Homo sapiens: one gene and its partners. The protein of the gene in region 4 purifies or fractionates together with the protein of the main gene of each other region. This does not show direct contact. Each region holds a gene or a part of one and is shown on either strand. Other genes may lie near its edges.

Region 1 (7,555 bases), on a different chromosome or scaffold from region 4:
ATTATACTAAGTGAAAGAAGCCAGGCATAAAAGGCCACATAGTGTATATGATTCTATTTATTGAAATGTGCAGAATACAAAAATTTTTACAGATGAAATTAAATTTGTGGTTGCTTAGGGCTGGGGTGGGGAGAACACACTGAGGAGTGGGTACAGGAGTTCTATTTGGGGTGATGAAAATACTCTAGATTGCTGGGCGTGGTGCCTCACGCCTGTAATCCCAGTACTTCGGGAGGCCGAGGTGGGTGGATCGAATGAGCTCAGGAGTTCAAGACCTGCCTGGGTAACACAGTGGAACCCCATCTCTACAAAAAATACAAAACTTAGCCGGCGTGGTGGCACATGCCTATAGTCTCAGCTACTTGAGGGGGTGAGGCAGGGAGGATCGCTTGCGTTTGAGAGGTTGAGGCTGTAGTGAGCCAAGATCCTACCACTGCACTCCAGCCTGGGTGACAGCGTGAGACCCTGTCTCAAAAAAAAAAAAATTATTAAAAAAATAAAGTTAGATTGTGGTGATGTTTGTACAACTCTGTGAATATATTAAAAACTGCTGAACTGTAAACTTCAAATGTGTGGGTTTTATTGTATGTGAATTACATCTCAATAAAGCTGTTTTTTAAAAACAGATCACAGATTTAAATGTCAAACATAAAATTAAAAAACTTTAAAAATAAAACACAGGAGAACGTCTTTGGGAGCTACGGCTTGTGAAGAGTTCTTAGACACAACAACAAAAGCATGATCCAAAAAATGTTTTTAAATCAATAAACTAGACTTCAAAATTAAATGTGTTTGCTCTAACAAAGACCTTGTTAAGAGGACAAAAAGACAAACTACAGCCTGGGAGGAAATATTTGCAAACCACATATCTGACAAAGAACTCATACCTAGAATATGTAAGGAACTCTCAAAACTCAAGTTTTTTTTTTTTTTAAGCAATCCATTTGGTAAATGAGCAAAGAATGTGAAGAGACATTTCACCATAAAGGACATGTAGATGACAAATAAGCACATGGCAAGATGTTCTACATCATTAGCTATCAGGGAAATGCAGCCTCCCCTGGGCCTTAGTCATTTCTTGCTCTTCTTGGGAAAAGGCAAAGACAGAGACCTATGAGTCAGAGCTGGGGGCAGGAAGTTGGATGGAAAGGAGAGAAGATTCAAATGCAGACATAAGAGACACAGTCCATCTCACATCTTGGAGCTGGAAACAAGCTGACTGTGTCTCTCATATCTCCCAGAAGCACCAGCCTGAAAATGTGCACCCATAAGCCAGGTTAAGAGGTCGCCAGTGGAAGCCAGGGAGACCCACCTGGTTAGAGCCCCAACCTCTGTATTGGTGACAGGCATTGTACAGAGCAGGGGTTGGCAAACCTTTTCTGTAAAAGGCCAGATAGTAAATACTTTAGGATGTCCATACCATGTGGTCTCTTTGGCAACTACTCAACTCTGCCATTATAGCGTGAAAGCAGTAACAGACAATATGTAAACGCATGAGTGAGACTTGTGTTCCAAGAAAATTTTATTAATGGACACTAAAATGCAAATTTCATATAATTTTGATGTGTCACAAAATATTAGTTTTACTTTTCTAAAGCCCTTTAAAGATGTAAATAGTATTCCTAGTTTGCAGGCTATAGGAAACTGTAAAGGGTCAGCAAACCAGGGGCCATAATTTGCTGACCCCTGATATAGAGCTTAGATGAGGAGGTTCACTGTTATGCGTACCACTGTCACTCAACACTTGATTTACAATGCAGTGACCTCCTTTAAATCCATAAATTCAGCCGGGTGAGGTGGCTCATGCCTGTAATCCCAGCGCCCTGGGAGGCCGAGGTGGGCAGATCACTTGAGGCCACAAGTTCGAGACCAGCCTGGCCAACATGGTGAAACCCTGTGTCTATTAAAAATACAAAAATTAGCTAGGCGGCATGGTAGTGTGTGCCCGTAGTCCTAGCTACTCCAGAGGCTGAAGCAGAAGAATCACTTGAAACCAGGAGGCAGAGGTTGCCATGAGCAGAGATCACACCACTACACTCCAGCCTTGGCAACAAAGTGAGACTCTGTCTCAAAAAAAATCTATAAATTCTACTTCTAGGAATTTATCACAAGGAAATAATCATGGCTCCGCACAAAAATTTGACAGCAAAGACTTATCCCATCCTGGTTATAACAACGAAAATATCTGAACACATTCAAATATCCAGTGACAGAGGAGTGGCTCAAAAATCTGAGGCCATCCAAAGAATGGAATGCTATGCAGCCATGTCAACAATTATCCTATGGTCTGGAAAGAAAGCAAATGTGATCAAATATTAACAACGAGTGAATCCAGGCCGGGCATGGTGGCTCACGCCTGTAATCCCAGCACCCTGGGAGGCCGAGTTAGGCGAACTGATTGAGCTCAGGCATTCGAGACCAGCCTGGGCAACATGGTGAAACCCCATTTCTACAAAAAATTAGCTGGGCATGGTGGCTCATGCCTGTAGTCCCAGCTATGCAGGAGGCTTAGGCGGGAGGATTGCTTGAGCCCGGTGGCAGAGGTTGCAGTGAACCGAGATCACACCACTGCATTCTAGCCTAGGCAAGAGAGCAAGACCCTGCCTCTAAAAAAATTTTAAAAATTCAAAATAAAACAACTGGCGAACTTAAGTGCAGGGTATATGAGTGTTCACTGTCAACTTTTCTGTAGGTTTGAAATGTAAAAATAAAGTTGGAAATACATTTTTAAGTAAAAAATTCTTTTTTGTGAAATATAAGTTAATAGACTTACACAGACTCATCTCCAGCCCATCAGAATTGTGTTCTCTGTTAAATAAATATGTGTCTTCTTTTCTCTCTTTTCACAGGAAAGTGGTATAGATTAACTAGATAATATTTTTCTACCTAGTATCTATTCCAATCACACTCAATGTAATTTAAACTATATGTAACATGAGATTTACAGACCAAAAAAACTAATCTCAATGTTTTCATTTTACAATTATCTCGTTCTAAGGGCAAAGAAAAGCTTAACTTGGCCAGGTGTGCTGGCTCATGCCTATAATCTCGGCATTTTGGGAGGCCGAGGTGGGCAAATCACTTAAGCCTAGGAGTTTGAGACCAGCCTGGGCAACATAGTGAGACTCTGTCTCTACAAAAACTTTTTTAAAAATTAGATGGGCGTGGTGGTGTATGCCAGTAGTCCCAGGTACTCCAGAGGCTGAAGCGGGAGGATCACTTGAGCCTGGGAGGTTGAGGCTGCAATGAGTCATGATCATACCACTGCACTCCAGCCTAGGGGACACAGACCCTGTCTAAAAAAGAAAAAAAAGAAAGAAAGAGAGAGAGAGAGAAAGAAAGAGAGAGAGAGAGAAAAGAAAGGAAGGAAGGAAGGAAGGAAGGGCTTAACTTGCTTGGGTTTTGAGCATTTGAAAAAAAAAACTTGCTTTTACATATGAAACACAAATTATCTGGGAAGACTTCCTTGGTAGGGGTGGGTGCTCTAGGCTCTACAGATGGAAATAGCATTTGGGGATTCATCCCATGGTCTGGATTCTTCTCCAGGCAAAGGCCCATTCTTGCTGGGTTATAAGTTCTTGTTTGAAAATCTAACCTGAAAAATAAATTCACTCAGTCACTCTAGTGCATAAGAATAAATTCACAAAAACCTTACCATTTAAATAAAAACATGGGAACTATGCCTAACTACAAGATGGCCAATCTTCGGCAGAGGACTTCAGCCACCCTCTCCATTTGACTATCAAACGAGGTGATTAGACAGAGAGTGTTGTCAATTTCCACTTGAGCCTCACTTATGGGTTGCGAGTGCAGAGCTGGAGTTATCAAAGATGAATTTTAGAAAACCTGTCTCTGTTTAAAACCTTTTAAATGCTTATACTCAGTCCCATTGCCAGGAGTGAAATCCAAACCTCCCGTGTGAAAAATCAATATCCAGGCCGACAGATCACACGGGATCTTCCTTATAGACCAGAACCATAGTCAATTTTTAGGTCCTTTTAAATATTAAACTCTTCACTTCCTCTACCTCCACCTGTGCGTCGCGCCTACCTTAGAACCCGCCAAATCCCATTAAATCCCACCCCCACCAGCCACACACGGTCTCCATAGGCTCCAGGCGCCGCTTTTGCAGTCCCCCATTGGCCGGTTTATTGCCAGACGGCCCCTGCTCGCACGCCCTAGTCTTCTTTGATCTCCTCGGATTCCGTGAAGCCCTGCCCTTCTCTTCTCCCCTTTGGCCCGTCTTCTTCCACTCAGGCCCGCCCCTCCCCAACTGGCTATTTGGTTGGCCAGCGCGCTTGCCACTTACGTCATTCACCCGCGCCACCCGGAAGCCGCGGTTCCTACCAACCGTTCTTATTGCTGGCGGCCTGAGGTAAAGGCCGCGCTTGGGTGTCCCTGGGTGGTCGGGTCCCCGAGTTGGGAGGGGCGGAAGGCTGAACCTCCAGCTTGAGCCGGACAAGCCGATTCCCAGCGTTGAGAGGGTAGAGATGAACTGTGTGTGAGGCCAAACTGGATCGGTCAACATGGTCTTCCCCCTCCCCACTCCCCAGGAGCCCATCATGGCGACGCCCCCTAAGCGGCGGGCGGTGGAGGCCACGGGGGAGAAAGTGCTGCGCTACGAGACCTTCATCAGTGACGTGCTGCAGCGGGACTTGCGGTGAGTGACAGTGCGGGGGGCGGGGCGTTTGGAACATTCCACGTGGTGGGTGGGGCGTTCAAAGTTAGGGCCAACCCTTTGAATTGGCGGGCGAGGCGTTCAGAGTCCGGCCCCGCGCTCCTTGGAGCGAGAAGTGGGGACGACATCCGGGGTGCAGTTTGGCTGGGACGTGGCGTTCATAGCAGGGGCGTGTCAGCGCATGCGCGGCCTCCGATGTTTAACAGATTAAGGCTTGTTTTCTGGAGCCACAGTTCTCGGGTTCGAATCCTGGCTCGGCCATTCTTCATCCTTGTGAATACGTCCTACCTCGCCTTTCTGTGCCCTATAAACTTTACTCTTCTGTGAAATGGGGAGTTTTCTGGAACCTTCCCCATGCAGTGGTTTTGAGTTTTTGATGTGTCCCATCTTTGTCAAGAATTTAGCATGGATGCCTGAAACATAGTAGAGGTTCAATGAGTATGAAGAAATATTATTGCAATCTTTGTTAATCTAAGCAGGAAATAAGGTGTTCAGAACTAGGCCTATGAGCATCCTAAAAGGGATGGAGGATTTTTCTAGGGTGAGGATGGGACATTATGATTGGAGTTCAGTATTGGGAGTATAATAATAGTAATTATAACTAACATGTATATAGAGAGTTTACCATTTGATAAGCATTATTCTAGATGCTTTGTAGTAAACGCTCATTTAATCCTAATGACTCTACAAGGTAATACTGTCATCTGTATTTTATAAATGGGGAAACTGAGTCCCAAACAGGTTATTTACTTGCCAAAGTCACACATCTATAAAGGATAGAGCCCAGATCCAAACCCAGGCAGTCTGACCCAGAGCCGAAAATTAACTTATGCACTAAAAAGCCTTTTCAGTGTATGGTGACATGAGAGTCTCAGAGGGTCATGATATGAGGTATACTAGGAGGAATGGGGCTGCCTATTGGTCACCATTGTACTTTCGTCCCATCAGAAAGGTGCTGGACCATCGAGACAAGGTATATGAGCAGCTGGCCAAATACCTTCAACTGAGAAATGTCATTGAGCGACTCCAGGTAAAGACTATGGGATTGGGTACCATTTTTTTGGTATGTGTGGGCAAGGGAGGGAAATGGGAAGAGAGACTCCAGACCCAACCCTGTCACCTGACCTAAGAGTTCACCACTGACCCCTACCTCTTTTTCCCTGGCCCCACAGGAAGCTAAGCACTCGGAGTTATATATGCAGGTGGATTTGGGCTGTAACTTCTTCGTTGACACAGTGGTGTGAGTGTCTACCCGCCCCTCTGAGCCCACAGGGTTCAGCTTACCCCTTCCCTCATGCAACTTATATTTTTTTGAGTATCTTCTATGTACCAGGCACTATGCGAGGTTTTATATCCCAGTAGGATATAAGCTAGGTGCTGGGGATGTGACAGTGAATAAAATAGGACAAAATCCCTGCCTTCCCAGAGCCTCAATTTGGGGAAGGGTGGGGAGCAAAACATAAACTATGCTAAACAGTGATAAGGACTTCTCCCCACTTCCTCTAACCTCTCTTTCCTCAGCCCAGATACTTCACGCATCTATGTGGCCCTGGGATATGGTTTTTTCCTGGAGTTGACACTGGCAGAAGCTCTCAAGTTCATTGATCGTAAGAGCTCTCTCCTCACAGAGTAAGTCCATTCCATGAGGATAGTGTGTAAAAACACCACCATTTCCAACACTCTTCTCCCTTTACCCATGGCTGCCTGGAATGATACTTAAGGACTCATCTCCCCTCCTCTTCAGAGCTGGGGCTGAAGAAATGGGGTTGCAAAGCCCATGTGTAGCACATAATAAGCACTCAAAAAATGATCTTTGTATTGTTCATTCACGCAAACATTTATTGGGCATCTTCTGTATGCCAGGCACTGTGCTTAGCAGTGGGAATGCAGCAGTGAACAAGACAGAAGAGTTCCTTGAAGGCTTACAATCTAGAAGGACTATACTGTTATACATAAATACAATTATGACCAGATCCATGAGGTCTCAGCCTGTTAGAATTGGTAACAAGAAAACTAGTTACCTATGATTTCACTTCCTGCTAATTTTACTATTCATTCACTGTGTTCCTGCCACACTCACCTTCACATGCTTCTTTCAACACCCCAAGAATGATCCCACCCCAGGGATATTGCTGTAGCTGTTCTCTCTGCCTGCACTGCTCTTTCCCCCAGTACCCACATGGCTTCCTTTCTCCTCACTCACTCGTCTTGCTTAAATGTCACTTCCTCAACAAGGCCCTCTGTAACCTAACTTTCAAATTACAGCCCCTGGCATGCTTGATTCCCCTCCTTCTACTTTTTTTCTACTAACACTTATCACCCCCTAATATTTACTATGTAATTTCTTTCTCATGTTGTCTCCTCCAATTAGAATGTAAGTTTTACAAAGGGGGAGATTTGGTTTATTCCCTTATACCCAGGTGACTAGAGTAGTACAAGCATATAGTAGACACTCTGTGTTTTTGTTTTTAAGAGATGGTGTCTCGCTGTGTTGCCCAGGCTGGAATGCAGTGACTGTTTACAGCTGCGATCATAGCATACTACATCCTCAAACTCCTGGGCTCAAGCAATCCCCTTGCTTCAGCCTGCCAAGTAACTGGGACTACAGGCGCACTGCTGTACCCGGCTTTGTGTTTGTTGAAATAATTTGAAAGGGTATGCTGGAAGCATATTAAAGTGGTTATTGAAGCAGATCTGTGTTGGGGGTGATGGGGAGAGAAAATGTGGGCTCCAGTTGAGTTTAAGGCAGGAGTGTCCAATCTTTTGGTTTCCGTGGGCCACATTGGGAGATTTGTCTTGGGCCATACATAAAATACACTAATGCTAATGATAGCTGATGAGCTAAAATAAAAAAGTTGCAAAAAAAAATCACATAAT
Region 2 (8,248 bases), on a different chromosome or scaffold from region 4:
TGTCCCCACAACACCTGCTGCTTGCTTACATACAGTGAGCATGCAAATAATTTCTGCTGGAAAGCCCATCAGCTCCTGCAATTGCTTTACCCTTAGTTCACAGACTAATCAAAGAGAGTACACTTTGATAGTACACTAATCAAAGCTGTACACTAAAAAATGGTTCTGAAAAAAAGAAGTCATAATAAATTCTCTCCAACTCTGTGTTTATTATGAAATACTGGCTAAGCATCCTAAAATTTAACACTCCCCCATGTGCTTTAAAAGACCTTGTCGATTATTTGGTTTCAAAACTAAATATTTTTCAACATGAATCTTCTACTCCGGCCAGGCTGGTCTCAGTGTTGCCACAACATGTTATTTCCTAACTACAAGTAGTTCTCATACAAAGCCCACGGAACTTAGAGCATTCTCCTGACTTATTTAAGAGAAAAGGTCTTATTATATTGCCCAAGCTGGTCTACAACTCCTGGACTCAAAGCTGTCTTCCCACCTCAGCCTCCTGAGTAGCCTGGGACTACAGGCAAGCACCACCACACCCAGTTTCTCGTAAATTTTTGAGTTTAACAAATATCACGTTCCTGTTACAGGCCTGTTTCCGAGGGTACTTACACATTGGTTTTAAATTTACGCAGCTGGGGCACTGGGTTTTTGGCTCGCATTTCTAGCACTTCCATGTAATGAGGTTTCTTCTCAGTCCCACTGGAAAGGCCTGTCAAGTTCTTAGTACTTGCGTTTTCTTCTGACTGTTGTTCACCTTGGTCCGCAATGGTGATCCTCTGTAACCTGTCAATAAACAGGTTGTCAAAGCTGCTGGAAGTATCTTCCGCTTGACTTGAAACACGATGCCGCGGGTGATGCTCACTAGCTTCAGATGAAGGTGGTACCCTGTCTCTATTGCTGGAAGCTGGGCCCTTATTCACTGTGTACTCAACCTCTGAAGTCTCTTCATCACCTTCAAGAGTAGGACGTCCAAGTCCCTGGTTTTGTGAGGTTTGAGATGACTTGATGTTATCTACAGAGGAACATCCAGGAACTAGTGATGAAGTATCAAGTATCGGGTCAGAATTCTGGGCCTTATCTGTACCCACATCAACTTCTGCAATTGCTTTTTGCCTTAGCTTACAGTCTAAACTAACAGGGTTAAACAGTTCACTTTTTCTTCTAACTTCTTCACATTCTGCAATGGCAGCTTTCAGTTTGGCAAAAGAGTCAAAGATCTTTTTACCTTTGTCGGGCAATTTGCAAATGAATTTTCTGTCAAATGGAAAAGAATACTATTACATTACAGCCATTTTTTTAACTTGAGATATAACATTAAAAAGGCAAGGCATTATCTTCAAAGAAAGAAAAGCTGATTTTTAAGTCAAATATCTGATTTCTAACTGCCCCAAAACAAGAATAAAACAATTAAAATGGTCATTATCCAAATAGCCCAAAAAACAAGGGAATGCAGGAAGAATAGGGAATATATGCCTCATTTGTCTCAGCAAATTAGAATTTCAGCAAAAGTATTTTAAGCATATAATAATCACATAAGACATTCCAAGAACCAGCAGTCATTAAAGTGCAATCTCCAAAATTTGGGGATGGGGTGGAGTGTGGGGATGGGCCTATTAGGTCAAAACTACTTTCATAATAATACTAAGATATTATTTCCCTCTCATTTTCTCGCATGGGTACAGTGGAGTTTTCCAGAGGCTACATGGCATGTGATGACATCATTGTTCTAGAATAGAATGTGTGCTTGTGTATGCTTATGTTTTAAAGACTTCAGACGTATTTCTGATAAGTAAATACATTTCGCTAGATACAACACATAAAATAGCTCTTTGGGATGTCAATAATTCTTAAAGTATAACGGAGTCCTGAGACCAAAAAGTTAATTCACTGCTATACATTCAAAACCTATTCTCACAAGGTCAAAACACATGTCTTGATCCCAACCAATTATTTATTTGTCCCTTTTGCTGGATGACAGAGTTCCTTTTCTGATTCCCTTTTCTTTAACTATACAATAAATGGAAAGAAAAAATTACACCTTAAGTCCTCTGTTCTTTTTGACACTACATTCATCCCCACAATTTCAACTATTAACAACACTCTACAGCTGAAATTCCTGTTTTCTGTATTTTTCCAGGGTTCTCTCTTTCTTGAGCCTCATGACTACTTCTCCAGCTTTTAAGTGTTTGGTTTTCGATTAACCAAATGTCTGTCCTGCTCTCCTCTCAACTCTGCACACCCTAAGTAAAATCAACCTTGGATCTATTCCTCTCCCTGAATTTTCCTATTTTTGCTAGTGGTCTTCCATATAGATTGGAAACTTCAGCCATCTCTGTCAACTGCATTTAAATTAGTCCATGCTTAAAAGTTCTCCCAATCCCTTCCTAGCTCACTTTCTTACAAGTGTCTCGTGGGAAGTCTCTCTGAAAATATCCTTCTACTGTCTTCTGCTTTTTATTCCTTCAAACCATCTTTTGCAACAAGCTGCTGAACAAAGCTGCCTAAAAAACAAAATCACTTTTATTACGTGGCTCCCTTGCTAAAATCCGTTCAACCAGCCAGCTGAATGAGGGTCGAACTTTCCCGGCCTAATAAACCCCTCTTCATATCCCACTCTTCCCATTTCCTACGGTTCCTGTAAGCTTAGAATCCAGAGATGAAGCTGACAATCTGTTATGGGTTAGGGGTGCGGGCGACAAAAGGGTTTAGAAAGCAGACTCATGGAACCACCACAGTCCCCGGGTAAATAAAACCGACCAGGGGCTACTAACTCCCTGCAACGCCAGGTAGCCGTTCAATCCGAGCTATCCTCGCAGGCATACGTGCCTGGCCAGGAAGAGGCACGGCTCTGCCGCAGCAAGCCCTCCGTCCACTCGCCCGTAGGACTGAAGCGAATGTGACTGAGTCAAAGTCACCTTCCAGGGAAGGGAACAGAGTGCGGGAGGGGAGGGGAGCGCCCAGGGAGCTCGAGCTGAAGGAGCCTGGCGGAGACTCCGCGGGACCCCAGCTTACTCGTTGCGCAAAAGTCTCTCCTGGCGCTTCAACATTTCCCGCAGCTCCACCAAACTCCGCTGCGCCAAGTCCTCGGGAGCTTGGGGCTCGAAGCCGCGGGGCAGCGAGCACATTCTGCGCGGGCTGAGGCTGGCGCGGCGGCGGGCACTCGGCTTCCTCGGCAGGCCCCGCTACTAGCGCCGGATCCGCGGACGGCGGTGACTCCGGGGCACGAGCGGGAGTCGCCATTTTCCCGGAAGAACGGGGTCTTCTTCGAGCCGAATCGAGCTTTATTGAAATTCCGGAAACAAACACGGACTGGGAGAAGGGGGCGTCCGCAGGAGCGTTAAAGGGCGGAAGTTACGTCGGATGACGCCGGCTCCTTGGCTTGGCGCCCTTTCCCCTTGTGTGAGCATTCATGCGGTCATCAGCTGTTCGTCGGTTTATACAAAAAGTATTCAGCGCCAGCGTGACCTCACCAAGCACTATGTGTCAGTCAACAAATAGCAACGTCCTGTGTTATACTTGGGGTTTACAGAGTTGGCGGGGGGATGGGGGGAGGGAGAATCAAATTATGATATAATAGTAACGTTGGGATGGGCACCTGGGAAGATATCTCTGAGAAGTGGTTCAAGTCGAAACTTGAAAGATGAGCTGGCCATTAATAAGGTGGGAGAGAGTGCGGGACAGGATTTGGGAGACTCTGGCCTGTGCGTGGTGCCTCCGGCCTGTGCGTGGTGCCTCCTAGCTCAGCTTAGGGACGTCCTGAAATTGTTAAAGTTGGAAGGTTCCTCAGAATCAGCGATTTTTCTTGGGGCTCAATGCATTTGGAGAAGGACTTCATTTGTAGCACCGCCTCAAGCATTGTTAAGACATTTGGTGTTTCTGGCTTCTGCCTGCTAGGTGCTATGGCACTCCCAAGTCATTGCAACAATCCAAAATGTCTCCTCCAACATACATTTCCAAAGGCCCACAAGAGGTGATGAGGGAGTGGGAGCAGCTGTACAAACTCGTTGAGGACCTTTTCGAATTTTCTACTTTGCCTATAGAAAAACAGAGGCATGAAAACTGAAATAAATATTCCCAGGGCACAAAACCAGTAAGTGACAGCACCAGATTTCAAACTCAAAAGCCCAGCCCCTTTTCCAACACACCAATTTGAAAATCCCCTTCTTCACTTTAGGCCTATTTCCAAATGTGTAAAACTGTTGAAAAGACTTCCCTCCGCCCCCCCCCACCCCCGCCACCTCCCCAGCTGTTGAGAAGAAGGCAGCTTAATAGGTATTGGACACAGCTTTTACCTTCTCGTTATAGTTCAGCTACCAGAGGTGCATCCCAGTGGAAAGAGTAGGAAGACATGCAGTCACAGCAGATGTCACTTGGGAGGTTTGAACACCCCCATAACCCACCGCCCTCCCCCGATTTTTTGATATAGGAAATTGAAGTTGTCTCAATCCTGTGTAAGATGCTATATAAACACAAGCAGCTCTGTCCTAAAGAGACAGAAGATCTAGGTAAACTCCAAAGCTATTCCAGGGAGCACAATTGCAACCATTTATCTATCCCCCCAATCTGGTCCATTCTGATCAGATTCATTAATATATCAAAATAAGTTTTCTCTGTATAAGACTTGCTTTCAAGGACGTTAATAACGTGCTGCAGCATTGGCTGAATGAGAAATAGGTAAGGTCCTCGAGTCAGGTGGTTGTCTGTGGTACTGACAAAAAAAAAAAAAAAAGACTCCGTAAAATGTTGAAGAGATGTATTCTGTGCCAAATATGAGTGACCATGGCCCGTGACACAGCCCTCAGGAGATCCTGAGAACACGTGCCTAAGGTGGTTGGTGCACAGCTTGGTTTTATACATTTTAGGGAGACATGAGACATCAATCAAATACATTTAAGATAAACATTGGCTTAATCCACAAAGGTGGGACAACTCAAAGCAGAGCGGGTGTGGGGCAAGATGGGCTCCCAAGTTATAGGTAAATTTAAGTTTTTTTCTGATTGGTAATTGATTTAAAGGAATGTCTAGGTTAGCATAAGAACTTGTGGAGACCGAAATTTTATCATGCAGATGAAGCCTCCAGTTAGCAGGCTTCAGAGAAAGTAAGTTGTGTTTCTTATCAGACTCAAGGTATATGTGTTGATATTAAATGCTGTGTAGCTTTTCCTGGATTCTAAAAGAAAGAAGGGCATAATGAGGCATGTCTGACCTCAGCTTCCCATCATGGCCTAAGCCAGTCTTTTAGGTTAAATTTGGAGGACCCTGGACTACAGGAGGAAGTCCATTCAGACGGTTGAGGGCGGACCTTCAAATTTTATTTTTGGTTTACAGTGATAAGCACCCCGCAAGCCTCCCTCACCCCACCCCTGGACCCCAGCTGGAGGCCTTTATTTCTCCCACAGTAGTGAACTCCCCATGTGCTGATTGTAGGCCACAGGTGTCCCCAAGGCAAGGATGCCTTTCTTTTAGGCCTCAGAATTTTGCCCCCTTCTGTTACCCTTTTGTGGAAGGCTATCTCTTCTCCCCTTGCCAATTGTAAGTCTTGGCTGAAGTCTCACCTCCTCCCTGAACCTTCCCATGTTATTCCAAACCAAACTTCTCTTTCTTTTCAGCACAATTATAGGGCTTAGTTAAAGTTGGAACCTCACTGCATGAAGCATATTATACTTCTCTAATTGTGTTATGCATCGAGATTTCTTTTTCCTTTCCTAACAAAATTGTAAAGTCCTTTCTGTGAGGGAGCTATAATTGTACTTTTTCTGTCTCCTCTCAGGAACATAGCATGTAGTAATTGACACAATCTCCTTCTCTCATATTTTTTTCTCTACCTTTCCCCCATATTCCTCTTTCTCTTAATGAAATGTTTCTTATATGCAAATCTTAAGCTTTTTATATAATTAATCATCATTACTGTGTAGATTTTTCAGTGGTTTGGGATAGAATCTTTTATACAGTATGGCTTAGGGCTTCAAGATATCATAATACAGATCTAAATTCCCACCAGCATCCAAGCACAAACTGTCTAATTTTGTCAGTAACCAGGAAGCATGGCAAGTGGAAAACATCACTCTACAACAGAAGCAGACTACTTGCAGCCTATTTACACTTCAAAAGGAAAATAGGCAAAGTATTCTTTTATAATTTATGAAACAAAAAATAAATATCTAGGACACAAATTTTCACAGCAGTGTCTAGAGAAGAAGATATAAAATGGAGAAATTTAACAATGGAGAAATGAAGACTAAAGAGAGAAACAATGAGTGCTACAGGTTATACCTGTTTGCAGCTGAACCAAACACTTGAAAGGAAATGGAGCCCACAAACCACAGACAGCTAATCTCTGCTAAAGAATTCCAGTTGCCTGTCAAAGAGCCCATCCGTTATAAAAATGAATCTGGGCAAGTGTTTTGGGGTTTTTTTGTTTGTGTTTTTCAGTGCTCATTAAAAAGATGAATCACTTTTCCAGTGGTACTTGGATTAATCTCCTGAATGTTGCTCTCAGAGTAAACTAATAAATTTGGCTGCGTTTGAAAGGAAGGAAAATTCAAAACAGAATTAAGGGAAAGGAAAATTTCATTAGTCACGTGAGGTGCTGCCAAGATGACCTATAGACATCCCACTGCCACGAAGCTACACAAGGACACTGAACAAAAACAAGACCTGGGAATGATTTCCACTTGTCCTTACCTAGTTGAAGATAAAAACTGACAATCAATTGTAAAACTGATAAACATAAATGTTTAGAATTTCCAGGCTGTTCTCCTCTGTTTTCTTGCTTTGATTGTCATTGTTGGGGCATGAATGGCCACAAAACTGGCCATGATATAGTTGGAGTTGACCAGAATGGCAGCAACAATATTTCCCATCCTAAATGTGTTCTTCTTGCTATGTGAGTTTAACACTCCTCCTGTCAAGAAATGGGGTTATTCTTCTCTATCCTTGAATCTGGGCGTGCTTATAACTAGAGCAAAAGTGATTTTTCTAGTCTAGATGACAAAAGGTGATGCAACTTCTACCTAGCTTTCTTGAAGTGCTTACTCTTGGAACTCAGCAAGCAAGCCATGAAGAAGTCTGCATTTGCGTAGATGTTTTGGCTATCATCCCAAGCTGAAGTTTCAGCCAACAGGTAGCATCAACCACCAGACATGTGAGTGAGCAAAACTTTGGATAATTTCAGCCCCAACTGTCCAGTCACTTCCAGCCTTCACGACATCCAAATTGAAGCCTCAGACATTGTGGAGCAGAGACATCTTCACTATGCCTTTTCTAAATTTGGGGTCGTTTATTAAACAGCAGTAGTCACAGGAACTTTATCCAAGGTTAATCCCTTCAGCTATACTATGGATCCCATCTGTTCTTGCTTCTTTGGAGATCTCATTCATTTGTTCAGTAAGTAAATATTTATTGAGCGTCTATCACAAGTGAAACGCTATTCTAGGATTTGGTGATATAACGATGAATGAGGTAAAGAAATTTCCTGTTACATTGAAACTTTTATTCTATCAGTACTAAGAGTCACATAGAGAATTAGTACAGAGTGATTTGATAAGGAGTGACTGGTAGACTACTTTGATTGGGTGACTGAGGTTGGGTTTTCTGAGGAGGTAACTTTTAAGCTGGGACTTCAAATGACAAATGATCAACTGTGGGAAAATCTGATGGAAAAACATCCCAAGTAGAGGCAAGAGAAGATACTAAGGCCGTAAAAGGAGAAGGAGCTTAGCATGTTCAAATAACAAAAAAAAGCAATGTGGAAGGCTGGGGCTAGATCTAGCAGGGCTTTGTAGACCAGGATATGGAGTTTGGATTTTACCCTAAAAGAAATGGGAAGCCACACGTGGTAGACAGCCTCTAGGATGGCCCCCAGTGTCCCACTCCAATGTAATCCTCTCCCATGGAATGTTGACTGGACTTAACTGACTCACTTCTAATAAATATGGTAGAAGTGATGGGCACCACTTTCCAGATTAGGGAATAAAAGATTTGAAAAGACAGTTTACCAAAGAAGATATATAAGTGAAAAATAAGCACATGAAAGAAGACCAGTGTTATTAGCCATTAGGAAAATGCAAATTAAAAATACATGGAGAAGCTGGGCATGGTGGCTCATGCCTGTAATCTCATCTACTCAGGAGGCTGAGGTGGAAGGATTGCTTCAGCCCAGAAGTTCAAGACCAGCCTGGGCACCATAGCAAGACTCTATATCCAAGAAAAAATAAATAATAAAATCACAATGAGATATTAGTAC
Region 3 (7,202 bases), on a different chromosome or scaffold from region 4:
GCTGGTCTCGAAATCCTGACCTCAGGAGATCCATCTGCTTTGGGCTCCCAAAGTTTTGGGATTACAGATGTGAATTATTGTGCCCAGCCAAGGCTGGGTAATTTGTAAAGAAAGGAGGTTTATTTGGCTCGCAGTTCTGTGGGCCATACAAGCATGTGGCACCAACACCTGCTCGGTTTCTGGTGAGGCCTCAGGAAGCTTCCAATCATGGTGGAAGGCAAATGGGGAGCTGCACGTCACATGGCAAGTGGAAGTAAGAGCTAGGGAGCAAGAGAGGAAGGAGGAGGTGCCAGGCTCTTTTAAACAACCAGCTTTCATGTGAACTCATTACTGCAGAAGAGCAGCAAACCATTCATGAGGGATCCGCCCCCAAGACCCAAACACCTCCCACTAGGCCCCACTTCCAACATTAGGGATCACGTTTCAACATGAGATTTTGAGGGAACAATATCCAAACCATGTTAGTGGCCCTCTATTGACTCCAACATCTATGAACAGGGCTGGTGCTTGCCTTGGTCAACTCTTGTCTCCCATTCCCAGTGGGGGGCCTGGCACATGAAGAAGGGATTAACCAATAATAAGTAATAAAGTAATAAGGTAATAAAATAATATTTACTTTTTTTTTTTGAGACAGAGTCTCACTCTGTCACCCAGGCTGGAGTGCAGTGGCACCATCTCGGCTCACTGCAAGCTCTGCCTCCCGGGTTCATGCCATTCTCCTGCCTCAGCCTCCTGAGTAGCTGGGACTACAGGTGACTGCCACCACACCTGGCTAATTTTTTGTGTTTTTAGTAGAGATGGGGTTTCACCATGTTAGCCAGGATGATCTCGATCTCCTGACCTCAGGATCTGCCCACCTCAGCCTCCCAAAGTGCTGGGATTACAGACATGAGCCACTGTGCCTGGCCTACCATTTTTTTTTTTTTCTGAGAGGAGTTTCACTCTTGTTGCCCAGGCTGGGGTGCAATGGCATGATCTCGGCTCACTGCAACCTCCACTTCCAGGGTTCAAGTGATTCTCCTGCCTCAGCCTCCCCAGTAGCTGGGATTACAGGCATGCACCACCACACCTGGCTAATTTTGTATTTTTAGTAGAGGTGGGGTTTATCCATGTTGGTCAGGCTGGTCTTGAACTCCCGACCTGAGGTGATTTGCCTGCCTTGGCCTCCCAAAGTGCTGGGATTACAGGCGTGAGCCACTGCGCCTTGCCAATTTTTTTTTTTTTTTAGACGAAGTGTCATTCTGTTGCCCAGGCAGGAGTGCAGTGGCATGATCTCTGCTCACTGCAACCTCTGCCTCCCAGGTTCAAGCGATTCTCCTACCTCAGCCTCCCGAGTAGCTGGGATTACAGGTGTGTGCCACCACGGCGGCTAATTTTTGTATTTTTAGTAGAGATGGGGTTTCATCATGTTGGCCAGGCTGGTCTCAAACTCCTGACCTCAAATGATCCGCCTGCCTCCACCTCCCAAAGTGCTGGGATTACAGGCATGAGCCACTGCGCCCGGCCAAAGCTGATCATTTGAAAGTGTGATAAGTGCTACAAAGAAAATTTAAAAAGTGAGGTGAGGGCAGATGCCTAGAGGAGAGGGGAGGGGCTTTTGTGGACAGGAGATCAAGAAAGCCCTGTTATTATTTGAACTGAGGCCTGAGTAATGGCAAGGAGGCAACCATGGAAAGATATGGGAGAAATATTGCAGGCAGAGAGATCAGCAGGTGCAAAGGCCCTGAGGCAGGAACTAGTCTGGAGTATCTGAAGAAGAGAGAAATTGTTGTGGTTGGCTTGAGTGGTAGGGGGCTTGGTTGGAGGTGGGGAAGGTGGGTCCGACAATGCTGAATTCTAGTAGGATGTCTGGATTTGATTCTGGTTGCTGTGGGAAGCCATGGAGGGCCCTAGAAGGGAGACTGACATGACCTGATCCCCTTTGAAAAGCTCACCCAGACTGCTGAGTGGATAATAGTTTAGAGGTGTGCGAATTGGATGTCTTTGGCTGCTCATGATAGAAAATTGTCCTGGTCATTTAGAAAATTTACTGGCCTTTTAAACGGGAAGTTCAGAAGTGATGCAGACTCCAGAGCTGGTTGATTCAGCCCTGGATCAAGTTCTGTGATGCTGTCAAGGATTGGGTTCTGTTCTCAGCTCTGCTGACCACAGATCGCACTTCATTCTGAGTACTGGAGTGTCTAGGTGGTCTGGGGGGCTGTCTGATACACATGGGGCTACCTGCTTTGCACTTCCTGGCCAAGGGGATAGACTGATTCCTTATGGGAGCACTTTTGAAGAATGAGGAAGAACCTTCTCAGGAGAGGCGTGGTGGCTCTTGCCTGTAATCCCAGCACTTTAGGAGGCCAAGGCGGGTGGATCACTTGAGGCCAGGAGTTTGAGACCAGCCTGGCCAACATGGTGAAACCCTGTTTCTACTAAAAATACAAAAATTAGCCAGGTGTGGTGGCACGCGCCTGTAGTCCCAGCTACTCAGGAGGCTGAGGCAGGAGAATCGCTTGAACCCAAGAGGCAGAGGGTGCAGTGAGCCAAGATGGCACCATTGCACTCCAGCCTGGGCAACAGAGGAAAAAAAAAAGAACCTTCCCAGAAGCCTCCAGGAAGTCTCTGTTTGGACGACATCGCACACCCATTCTTGAACCAACTATTTAGAAGGGAGATGCATCACCCCCTTTGCCTGGAGCTAGGGGGTGGGTCAGCTTCCTACAGGCACAGGACTATGTGGTCGCGGGTTAAGCCCCTAAACGAGGGGAAGTGGGGTGGGCAGCAGCCGATCTCCATTACAAGGGACAAGAGTAGGGGCAGCAAGGCCAGATCAATGGTTGCTGAGGTGGCTGGGGATGGAGAGAGGATGGTGGTGGTAGAAGAGATGGTAACAATGGTCAGGTCCTGGCTGTTCCAGAGGTGATGATGGTTGGATATGCAGTGAGGAAAAGACAGGAATGAACATTTATCTTTTCCCAAGTTGTCCTTGCTTTCTTCCTTTGAAGCCATAAAAAGGAAAAAAAGGGTGGATCTGGACTTGGGAGCTGGGCAGGAGTGAGGGAAGAGAAGCAGAGCAAGCAGGCACACCAGGCTGTGACTCTGCAGGCATCTCTCTGCCTAGACTTGTCTGTATGATGTGGAACGAACACGACCCATCTTTACTGCTAGCGACTGCAGCAGATAAGGCAAGGCCACTTTCACGCAGTTAGGTTAATAGGAGGCTGTACAAAGGGCTGTAGGAGGAAGTGGGCACAGGAGTTCTAAAATAATTGGAACGGCCAGGTGTGGTAGCTCACACCTGTAATCCTAGCACTTCAGGGAATCCAAGACAGGAGGTTAGCTAAGACAGGAGGCTCGCTTAATGTCAAGACCAGCCTGGGCAACATAGGGAGACCCCGCCTCTACAAAAAATAGAAAAATTAACAGGATGTGTTGGTGCGGGCCAGTGGTCCCAGCTACTCCTGAGGCTGAGGTGGGAAGATCGCTTGAGTCTAGGAGTTTGAGGCTGCAGTGAGAAATGATGGCACTACTGCACTCCAGCCCGGGCGACAGACCAAGACTCAGTCTCTTAAAAAAAAAAAAAAAAAAAAGAAAAGTGGGGGCAAAGTTATCCTTGGAAAATTTCTTAGTCCATTCATAGCAGCATATTAAAATTAGTACAGTAGCTTAATTTATATAAGAGAAAATACAATGTGTACAGTAATTAATGAACATGCAAAATATAATTGTATATTTCAACTCACTAAAAAGGCACAGAAAGAGTTGAATTTGCTAAAATTAAATGTGCTTATGAAACAGCTCTAGTACATGAATTAAGCTCCTAGATACAGATGCAGCGCCAAACGACGGGGAGGGAGATGGGGCACTCAAGGCGACACGCGGCTCTTGTTGCCGAGCGTTTCCTGGGCGTGGAGCTTCTATAGAATGTAAGCTTTTTTTTTTTAAGGTTCCAAAGCCTATATTTAGTGCTTTCATATACGTAATCTCAAAAAAAAAAAAAGAAAGAAATATCGGCATAAAATGTAAGCTTCCAGAGGGATACAAACGCAGCCCAGCGCGGACACCGCCAGCCCCAGCCACGCGGTTCGCATCAAGCGCACTCCCCTGGGGGCGGGGCCTGCGCGAGCTGGGCGTGTCGGGGGCGGGGCCTGCGCGCTTGCTTCCGGCGTGCCGCGAGAGGCGGGGCGTGTGGGGAGGCGCGGCCGCCACGCGACGCCTGGCTGGGCCCGCACCGGAGAGGCGTCTCGGTACCTGGCAGGCGGCCTGCTACTCGGAGCCCGCTGCGGGGCGGCGGCGGCGGGGACATGCACGTGTGAGATGCGGCAGCGGGCGGCGCGGACGCGAACAGCAGCGGCGGCGGCGGGCGCGGCCTCCTGGGCGCGGGGCGCGCGGTGCCTGAGGGCGGGCGCGCGGGCGCTGGGCAACTGCCGGCCGCGCCGCCTGCGCAGGCGCTGGTTCAGGACTCACACGCCGCGCTGAGGCCCGCGGGCCCGTCATGGAGGCGCCCACCGTGGAGACGCCCCCCGACCCCTCGCCCCCTTCGGCCCCGGCCCCTGCCCTGGTTCCGTTGCGCGCCCCGGATGTGGCGCGGCTGCGCGAGGAGCAGGAAAAGGTAACTAGCAGCCCCGCGCCGCTTCCGCCTCCGCCCGCCGGGCTGCCCCTGCCTGTGCTCTGGGCCGCCGCCCCGCGTGGCCTAGGCCCAGCTGCCCGGGCCCCCGGAGGGAACGGGGATAAACTTTTGTCACGTGCTTCTGTTGTCTTTGTCTGCAGCCCTTTGACTTCGCAGCGGAGTGAGGGGTGTGCAGCCCGTTCGCCTGCCCAGGAAAGGGGGCTTCTGAGCTGAAGGCGTGCGGCAGCGCGTGGGAATTTGGGGGCGGGGGCAGCACGCTGTCAACGGAAGCGTTCGCCTTAATATTTGTAGCTTGTAATGACCTAAACATTGCTTAAAATGTGTACTGTTTGTTGCTCTTTGATTGCACGGAAAAGTTTTACCGCGTTTGTCATGATAATGCTTCCTGTGCAATATTTGGTTATTTAATATTTGTCACAATATAATGCCATTTAAACATTAAAAAAAAAAGAGAGTCTCACTATGTTGCCCAGGCTAATCTCGAACTTCTGGCCTCAAGCGATCCTCCCCCTCCTACCCTTCCCCACCTCGCCTCCCAAAGTGTTGGGATTATAGGCCTGAGTCACCGCACCCGGCTCATTTTTACAAATTTTAATTTCATCGTATAATAAATGAGTTTTAAACTACTGGTGAAAAGGGTACAAAGTTTTGTGTTTCCTAGTGGGACTTTATATAAAGAAGTATTCCCAATTTAAGAAATAGTTTTATTGTTAAATCTGATTTTTCTGTGGATTCTGTGGTCTTTCAGATTGATTCTGTCCCCTCAAGTGTCTTGAAATTGTTACTTTGAAAAGCAGTATTTAATTTGCTTAAAATATTTTATGTCATGTTTGGAAGAGCATGGATTATAAAGGGTTAGGAAGTTGCTTCAACACTATAAGCAGTTTAAAAGTTCTTAACTTTTTAATTGAACATTCCTGTATAAGAACGACTGTTTACATAGATACAAAAATATACTCAGTTCTACTAGATGGGGGTTTTGATAGAACTTAAAAAACCCTCGTTTGCTTGGAAACCACCTGTTGGGATGAACTGCGGGAATCTTTCTTTGTTCTGGTTGGTTTAAATTATTTTGTGGGTTGGATTTTCATTTCTCAGCCATTTTTCTCTAATAACGCAACTGTTAGGTTTGGAAGCCATGTTTTCAAGATGAAGGTTTAAAAATCCAGTGGCTAGGGTGGTGACTCAAACCTGTAATCCCAGCTGCTTGGGATGTCAAGGTCGTGGAATTGCTTGAAGCCAAGGAGTTCGAGATCAGCCTGGGCAACACAGGGAGACCTCCGTCTATACAAAAAAATACAAAAAATTAGCCGGGCCATGGTGGTGCACGCTTGTAGTCCCACGTACTTGGGAGGCTGAGGTGAGAGGATCACTTGAGCTCAGGCGTTTGAGGCTGCAGTGGGCCATGGTCATGCAACTGCACTTCACCCTGGGCGACAGAGTGAGACCCTGTCATTCATATATATATATATATATATATATATATATATATATATATATATATATATATAAAACTTAACTAGTTTGGCGTCTTTAAATTAGAAGACATTAATGTATTTTTTTAAAAGAGAAAGATAGAAAAAGAAGAAAGAAAAAACAGCCCCTCATGAAATCTTACTCCTTTTGCCAAAACTTGGCATTTTTTATTCTTTCAGAGAATGTGACACAGACCCTCAGAGGATGGTGTTTCTATTGCCTTTCCTCTGCTGCAGTGGGTTAATTTCACCTCCTTCAGTGTATAATACGTGCATAATGCTGACTTGATATGTTTTCTGCCATTTGGCATATTAAAAAGATATCCTTAGTTTTATTCTGATGTTAGTGTGACTGAAATGCAAAGGATACTTTTTGGGGTGCTCTGAACAGCTTTCTGGTATCGTGTTGAGTTACATTGGAAGAGAGAGTAACTGCTTTTTCAGTTACAGTCTTGTGGCAAACTGAATGACTGTTTTCTGTAGACATTGACTGTGCTACCAAATTATTTTTCTGTGTTGTGTTAATGTTAATTCGGCACACAAAATAACCACGTATATCTGTCATGGGTGTGTAAAATTATCCCCAGTTCAGGAAAAAGCGCGTCAGTATTTAATCTATCTTTATTTAATAGAAGCATTTGCTTCAGTGGACAGGAGACCCACAAGGCCACAAAATAAACTGATTAGATAGCTGCACTGTAATTATAGTGTAGTACAGGAAAACTACCCAGTAAATCGGCAGTGAAAATTTTTTGTGAAGCAATTTATTTAGGCTTTAAAGCTGGCCCAGTTGTGGGAGTACAGTGAGTTCTAGTAAAGTAGAAGCGTAGTGACATCCTGAGTGTAGAAGGGGAAAATGTCATAGTAGCTTCATATGTGGCACTTAGTATTCCTTTATGAAAGATGAATCAAACATGCTTTTAAGCTCTTGGCCTTTCCCTACATGGGTTTTGTGAGACAGAGTTAAACTCTGCAGAAAATGATTTGAATGACTGTTCTCAGTTTTCCCTGAGAGGGTACCTACCTAGTTGGCTGTAGATGCAGAGAGAGAAATGAGTTCCTTACACACAGTGGGTGCCTTAGGCTTAGGGCATAATCTTCTCTGGGAGCCT
Region 4 (7,283 bases):
CACCCCTAGACCTCAAGGAAAAAGGTAGGAGTGGACCACAAGGTCTTGTACCAAGGAAGTGCTGCTTGTAGTGGACCAAGTGGGAATGACTCTTCTGCACCGTCCAGTTTCTTATTCTTCATTGGCAAAACTGAGATAAAAGCCAGAGAGCAAGGAAGCCCATTGATGCAGCCCATACAGATCAGCCTTCTGAAGTACAAAGACAGGTGGAAAAGGGTGAAAATTGTTCAGAATGAAGATACCTTGCACTGCCTATAATTTTCCTTTCTTGTAATATCGTTATCAGGTTTTGGTTGTAATCATTTGGTAAAACAAGTTGGGAAATGTTCCCTCCATTTCTGGAAGAATGTGTCTAAAATTAATGTTAGTTCTTTAAATGTTTAGAAGATCACTCATTGAACTATCTTTTCCTCTGATTTTCTTTGTGGGTTGTCAATTTTTTTTTTTTTTTTTTTTTTTTTTTGAGATGGAATCTTCTCTGTTGCCCAGTCTGGAGTGCAATGGTGCCATCTTGGCTCACTGCAAACTCCACCTCCTGGGTTCGAGCGATTTTCCTGCCTCAGCCTCCCAAGTAGCTGGGATTACAGGCACCCGTGCCATGCCTGCCTAACTTTTGTATTTTTAGTAGAAACACAGTTTCACCATGTTGGCCAGGCCAGGTTGGTCTCGAACTCGTGAGCTCAAGTGATCTGCCTGCCTCAGCCTCCCAAAGTGCTGGGATTATAGGTGTGAACCACCACGCCTGGCCTGTGGGTAGTCAATTTTTAAAAACTTTTTGTTATGGAAATTTTCAGAAACACACAAAGATAGACTAATACAGTGCTTACTATACAATGTGTGGTCCATGGAACCAGCAGCGTCAACATCATCTAGAAGCCTGTTAGAAATGCAGACTCTTATCCCCACCCCATATTTACTGAATGAGAATTACTTTTTAACAAGATCCCCAGAAGATGAGCATGCACATTAACATTTGAGAAGCACTGTTGGGGTGTGGTGGTTTGGGTTTGGGTTTTGGTCTGCTCATTCCATCAGTCACTGAGAAAGATGAGTTAAAAATCTCTCACCTTAATTGTGGATTGATTATTTCTACTTTTATTTCTGCAAATTTTACTTTTTGAGACCATGTTATTGGGTATAAATGTAAAATTGTTATGTCTTCCTGGTGAATTGAAACTCATATCACTATGGAGCAACCTTTCTATTTGCTTTTTTTCTTTACAGTCTACTTTGCTGACATTAACATTCTTGTATTAATGTGGTCAAGGACAATCTGTCTAGATTGATAATCTTTGTCCTTTATATGGAGAATTTAATCTATTTGCATTTCATGTCACAATTGGTATACAGTATTTGGGTTTAAATCTACCATCTCACTCCTCTTTCTATGTGTCCCACTTATTCTGTCTTCCTTTTCTCTCTTGCTTTCTTTTGCATTGAATCATTATTCCATTTTTTAGCCTCTGTTAAATTGTTTTTATATACTCTTTTACTGATCATTAAATGGTTACCCTAAGTGTTAAAACCTGAATCTTTGTCTTATTAAAGTCTAATGTAAGTTAATACTTTTATTGCTTCCTGGACAATTAGCACCTTAGCATGATTTAACTCCATCTATCCCTCTTGACTTATGTTCTGTTATTGGATATTTTTATTTTCTCTAAATTTCAAATATATTGCAAGATTATTTATAGCCAATACTCAGCTGGATTTATTCAATTAATTACTCTTTCATTGTTTTTCATTCCTTCTTCTATCCCCATTCTTCCATCTGAGATCATTTGCCTTGTGCCTGAAGAATATACTTCTCTTAGTATCAGTTGATAAAGAATTTTCTCAGTTTTTCTTTGTCAGAAAATTATTTTACTTTCACTTTTGAAAGATATTTTTCTATATTGAATTTTAGATGAGCAGTTATTTTCTTTCAGCCCATTGAAAATATCATTCCCTTGTCTTTTGGCTTACATTTGTATCTCTTATTGCTACTCCTTTGAAAGTATTGTGTTTTCTTCCTCTAGCTTCTTTTAAGGTTTTTTTTTGTAAGTTTTGGAATGTTCCCAGTTATCTCTTAGATATTGCTTCTATTCCATTCTGCCTCTTCTCTTTAGTCTTTTTTTTTACTGTATCTTGTAGGTCTCTTAATCTCCTTTGTGCTTTACATTATGTGTTTGGGGAGTGGTGACTGTGCTTCATTCTGGATATTTTCTTATTCAGCATTCTCTCTTCAGCCATTTCTACTATGCTTTTATGTCTCCCCATTAGTTCTTACTTTTAAATACCGTATTTTTCTATTCTAGGGTTTTCATTTTGTTATTTTATGTAGTTTCCAATTATCTGTCAAAAATTTTCAACCTCATAATTTTTCTTTGAATATATTAAACATGTATTTTAAATAATGCTGATAACTTCATTATTTAGATTCCCTGAGGATTGATCTCTGTAGGCTGTTTCAGATTTTTATCATATTGTCGTGTTTTATTATATGCCAAACATTGTATATTAAAAATTACAGAGATAACTGGAGACTCAGGATGATGTTATCTTCCTCTAGAATAGATTTATATTTGCTTCTGACATGATTTGTAGCAGTTCCATGTCACTGTAATGTAATCAGAGATTAAGATGATTTCAAGGTGGGATTCACTCCCTGAAAGAACTAGTCTATTTCCTATTCTTACTGTTATTCCTAGAGTATGGTCTTTCCAAGTCCTGGTCTCATACTTGGGGAAGGTTGCCCATACCCCTGCCTTCTTGAAGGATACCCTGAACTCTTTTTATTAGAAAAACTGCTCAATTTCTCAATATCTAATTAGAAAATTAGTGCTCTATCTGTAATTACCTTCTCCAGGATCTCAGACTGTAATTCTTTATAGCCTCGTTAGCTCTCTGATGCTAACAAATGTGTTTCAAACAAATGTGGATTGTTTTCCCCCAACTTTTTTCAGTTCTCAGAGAGAGAGTCGGTTTGAATTATCTTGTCTGCCATTTCTAGAATGGTTAGGGGTCAAATGACATAATGACTGAACTCCTCATAATATATTTATAGTATTTGCTAATTTTAATATTTTAATCCCCTACATTTGTACAGCACTTAGCAGTTTACAAAATCTTTTTGTTTACATTTTATTATTTAATAAAGGAGGTATTAATATCCCAATTATAAAGATGAGAAAACTGACTCTCCAAAGAGGGCAAATGACTCAAAGAAGTTCACAACAGCCTAACAACTGAGTTGATACTCAAATTTAAATCTAATTCTCAAGTCTAGTTATTTTCCTACTGTGCCACAGATACAAACTTTTGTGTTTTAATGTTTATTGTTCTGCTTATCAAAGAAAGAATGTAAACTTATGATTCTGTTTTGCTTTGTTTAAAAATGTGATTCAGCATGATTCCACCTTTCCACTGATAGACTCAAGTTCCCAGAACCAGATTAGAAAACGCATCGTACTTGAAAAGTTGAGTAAAGTGTAAGTATGTAATTGCCATTCCAGCTTTGTAGTAGTTTTAAATTAACTTGACATTTAAGCTCATAATGTGTAAGTATTATCCTCAGATTTTGAACATTTTGAAAAATAATGTGAAAAGTTCACATGGATTTCTTCACTTAAGAAATTTGGATTTTTAAGATATTTTATCCAAGAAATACAAATTTTTGTGTAGAGGACACAGAGGCACATCATAAAGAGGAAGGTTGAGATTGTGGGTTTAGAAGACCAAACTACCTTACTCCCACCTAATCAGTGAAGTCAGGGAAAAAATATCAAAGCTAGACCCATTTAAATACTGATTTGCGGTAAATGTGTCACAGCAGTTTCAGATGCAAATAAGATGTTATTACAAAGTTTTAAGGGTCTGTTAAGTCACTCTGCATGCATATCCTTAGAACCATTTCACACTCAGCAACATGAGTTTTTGTTCAACTCAACGTTGCACTTTAGCTTTAAACTTCCCGTGGTGGAAATTATTGTTCTTGTAATTAGCCCAGTCATAAATGACATTTAAAAATTGCTATCTTGGTTTTTCTTTCAAAAAGAACTTGAAGGTTTTTTTTTCCCAGAGGTATGAGGGCTGTGTTGAACTTTTCAACCTGCATTTTCTTATTTTAGCAGAAAACATGGAAAAGTGTGTCAGTCATTATTTAAGGGTTGTGAATATGAAGTTTTATTTTGTAGCAGTTTGAAAATACAGAAAACATTTCACATTAACCAAGGCATAAAGAAGAGTGAAGACAAAACTAATTATGGTATAGGAGTTTTTTGTTGTTTGTTTATGAAAGCTGTTGGGTTTTTTTCTCATTATCAAAGTTAGACCTTTTTTGGTTTTTTATTTGAACCAACCAATTGTAAAAAGTGTTTATTTCAGAGTATCAGAGGAAATAAAATATGTTGTATATTAGATGACACTAAGGAATTGTTAATTTGGATGGTTATGATCATTTTATTGTGATTATATAAGAAAGTGCCTTTGTATTTAGAGATAAAAATGGAAACAGTTAGGGGTCAAATGACATGACGACAGGGATTTACTTTAAAATATTACTACAAAATAAGAAAAAAATGTGCCAGGTGTGGTGGCTCATGCCTGTAATCCCAGAACTTTGGGAGGCTGAGGCAAGGGGATCACCTGAAGCCAGGAGTTCAAGACCAGCCTGGGCAGCATAGTAAGACCACATCTCTACAAAAATAAAAATAAAAATTCGGCCGAGTGCAGTGGCTCACACCTGTAATCCCAGCACTTTGGGAGTCTGAGGCAGGCAGATCACAAGGTCAGGAGATCAAGACCATCCTGGCTAACACGGTGAAACCCCATCTCTACTAAAAATACAAAAAAAATTAGCCGGGCGTGGTGGCGGATGCCTGTAGTCCCAGTTACTCAGGAGGCTGAGGCAGGAGAATGGCCCGAACCCAGGAGGCGGAGCTTGCAGTGAGCCAAGATCGCACCACTGCACTCCAGCCTGAGCAACAGAGTGAGACTCCATCTCAAAAAAATAAATAAAAATAAAAATTAATCGGGTGTTGTGGGGCTACTACTCAGGAGGCTGAAGTGGAGGATCGCTTGAGCACGAGAGTTTGAGTCTGCAGTGAGCTATGATTATGCTCGTGATTAAACTGTTCTCCATAGTGGGTGTACTAATTTACATTCCCACCAACACTGTATGAGGGTTCCCTTTTCTCCACATTTCTCACCAGCATTTGTTATTGCCTGACATTTGGATTATGCCACTGCACTCCAGCCTGGGTGCTGAAGGGAATGAAAAATGAAGCAAAGGTAGCAAAAATTAAGAAATTGAATCTGGAAATAGATATACGGGATTATTACTATTCTTTCTATTTTGGAACATGTGTGAAACTTTTTATACTATCACACTGGTCTTAAAAAGAAGCTTAAAAAAATAAAGTAACACATACTTTAGAAAATGAGGCAGTACAAAATGGTTTAAAGAAGGAAGTAAAAATTACCTGTAATCCCACCACTCAACAATAACTACTATTAATATTTTGATGTATATCCCTGACATATATATGGCATATGTATATTCATTCTATTTGGTTCTCTCTGTGGATAAACCTAGAAGGAATGAAATATGCTTGATATATATGAAGTACAATGGTATTATATAATACATGTTTTTATAAAAATAGGATAATACTATGTACATTTTTCACTTCACATCTATCATGAATATCTTTTTATATTAAAAAATAGATTCACATTATTTTAAATGTCTTATTCTATTAAATGGGTATAGCATAATTTATCTAACCAATCACCTATTGATACACATTTGTTTCTGATTTTTCACTACTAAAGCTATTTCTGCAACAAGCATATTTTTTATGTTCATCTGATTATTTCCTTAGATTAAATTTTTTTCATAGTAAAACTGTTGGGTCAAACACATTTAAACTGTTAATATATATTGTCAAATTGCTTCCTAAAAAGGTACTAATTTTCACTCCCACCATGGGGATTTAGTAAGGAAGAATATACCACACTCTCAGATTGGACCATTTTGGGGGCAGTTGTGTTCTTTCCATCTTGGTCTAATATTTGAAAATAAACAGGTAAGTAAAACTAGGGACAAGAATTTAAATAGCTGCCAAAATGATTTTGTGTTTCAGTGCTTCACACTCAGTAACAGACTACAAAGTGGAGTGTGGGGTTACTATGAATGTTTCCTTATGAGTTCTCACCAATCATAACCTAGGTTAACCTTTAAATCATGACTGCTTCCATCTAAATGCCATTATTAGCTATGGAAAATTCAGATCTAGGCATGACCCAAAAAAAGTTTCCATATAATTTTGTTTTAAAATAAATGTAATTTTTAAATTTTCAGGTTGCCTGGGCTTCTGGTTCCTCTTCAGATTACATTGGGAGATATTTACACACAACTTAAAAATCTTGTTCGAACTTTCAGGTTAGTGTTTATATTACAATTATCCTTCTCAATTATTTTGACTTTATTTATTGCCTTGCAGAATCCAAAGGCACAGAGAAAGTAAGTGACTTACCTTTCAATGTCACAGATCTAAATACAGTATTCTATTTTCTCCTCCACTAAACAACATTATTTCTCTCTTCTATTGAATGCAACCTTTATTTGCTCAAGCCATTATATATTTCACTTTGGATAGTTTATTTACGGAATAGCCTAAAATTGAGAAGGAAAATTATATCTATGATGCAAAGCCAGTAATACTATGGGTTTAAGTGAAATAGTAAATATATATTGGCTGACCCACACTGCACCAGGCACTATGGGTAATGTAAAAGAAACATAGTGCCACCCTAAAGGAAGAACTCTCCTCTGTGAAGATCATGTGAGTACAGTAAACAGTACAAGACAGTGGGCAATTTAATATTGAATTACACAGAACAGACTTAAAGTGCTAAGAACTATAAAGAAAGGGAGAATAGAGAATTGATATCAATTGTGAGTGAAACTGTTGTGATTTTTCCTAAAACTATCAAGATAAAAATACTCACTCAGGCTAAGACTAGGTTCTCTCTACCAAGAAGCATAGCAATAAGCCTCTAAATGGCTTATTAGTAGAGGTGTACCAAATACACATTTCAGCCAAATGCCAGTGACCAAATATTAAAATTAACATTTGCCTGTGGCTGATGTTGCACTGACACAGAATAAACTTCTAGGGTGGAAGAATTAATTCATCCAAGAAATTTATCATATATATTTATTATTATAGTCTATTGTTGTCAACAATAGCAGTCAGATTTTAGAAGTGTAAAATTACAGTACAGGAACAGTTTCTTGG

What was found.
Region 1: the proteins of RPAP2 (region 4) and UXT purify together in Homo sapiens (affinity purification with mass spectrometry; 5 studies listed by BioGRID and IntAct, with this or other methods). This does not show direct contact.
Region 2: the proteins of RPAP2 (region 4) and POLR2M purify together in Homo sapiens (affinity purification with mass spectrometry; 5 studies listed by BioGRID and IntAct, with this or other methods). This does not show direct contact.
Region 3: the proteins of RPAP2 (region 4) and URI1 purify together in Homo sapiens (affinity purification with mass spectrometry; 4 studies listed by BioGRID and IntAct, with this or other methods). This does not show direct contact.

What each region holds. Positions count from the first base shown.
Region 1 is NC_000023.11:47,655,935-47,663,489, reverse strand, and holds the start of UXT (protein UXT), read left to right. Parts: upstream 1-4,309; 5' UTR 4,310-4,375; exon of another isoform or gene 4,376-4,526; coding exon of another isoform or gene 4,527-4,562; coding exon 4,563-4,660; intron 4,661-5,626; coding exon 5,627-5,708; intron 5,709-5,850; coding exon 5,851-5,918; intron 5,919-6,199; coding exon 6,200-6,307; intron 6,308-7,555. UniProt on the Homo sapiens protein: Involved in gene transcription regulation. Acts in concert with the corepressor URI1 to regulate androgen receptor AR-mediated transcription. Together with URI1, associates with chromatin to the NKX3-1 promoter region.
Region 2 is NC_000015.10:57,701,723-57,709,970, reverse strand, and holds the start of POLR2M (protein GRINL1A), read right to left. Parts: upstream 3,258-8,248; 5' UTR 3,129-3,257; coding exon 3,016-3,128; intron 1,258-3,015; coding exon 613-1,257; intron 1-612. Other genes in the region: GCOM1 (GRINL1A combined protein), read right to left, coding at 613-1,257.
Region 3 is NC_000019.10:29,938,068-29,945,269, forward strand, and holds the start of URI1 (unconventional prefoldin RPB5 interactor 1), read left to right. Parts: upstream 1-4,171; 5' UTR 4,172-4,480; coding exon 4,481-4,597; intron 4,598-7,202. UniProt on the Homo sapiens protein: Involved in gene transcription regulation. Acts as a transcriptional repressor in concert with the corepressor UXT to regulate androgen receptor (AR) transcription.
Region 4 is NC_000001.11:92,330,004-92,337,286, forward strand, and holds part of RPAP2 (putative RNA polymerase II subunit B1 CTD phosphatase RPAP2), read left to right. Parts: intron 1-3,387; coding exon 3,388-3,470; intron 3,471-6,343; coding exon 6,344-6,424; intron 6,425-7,283.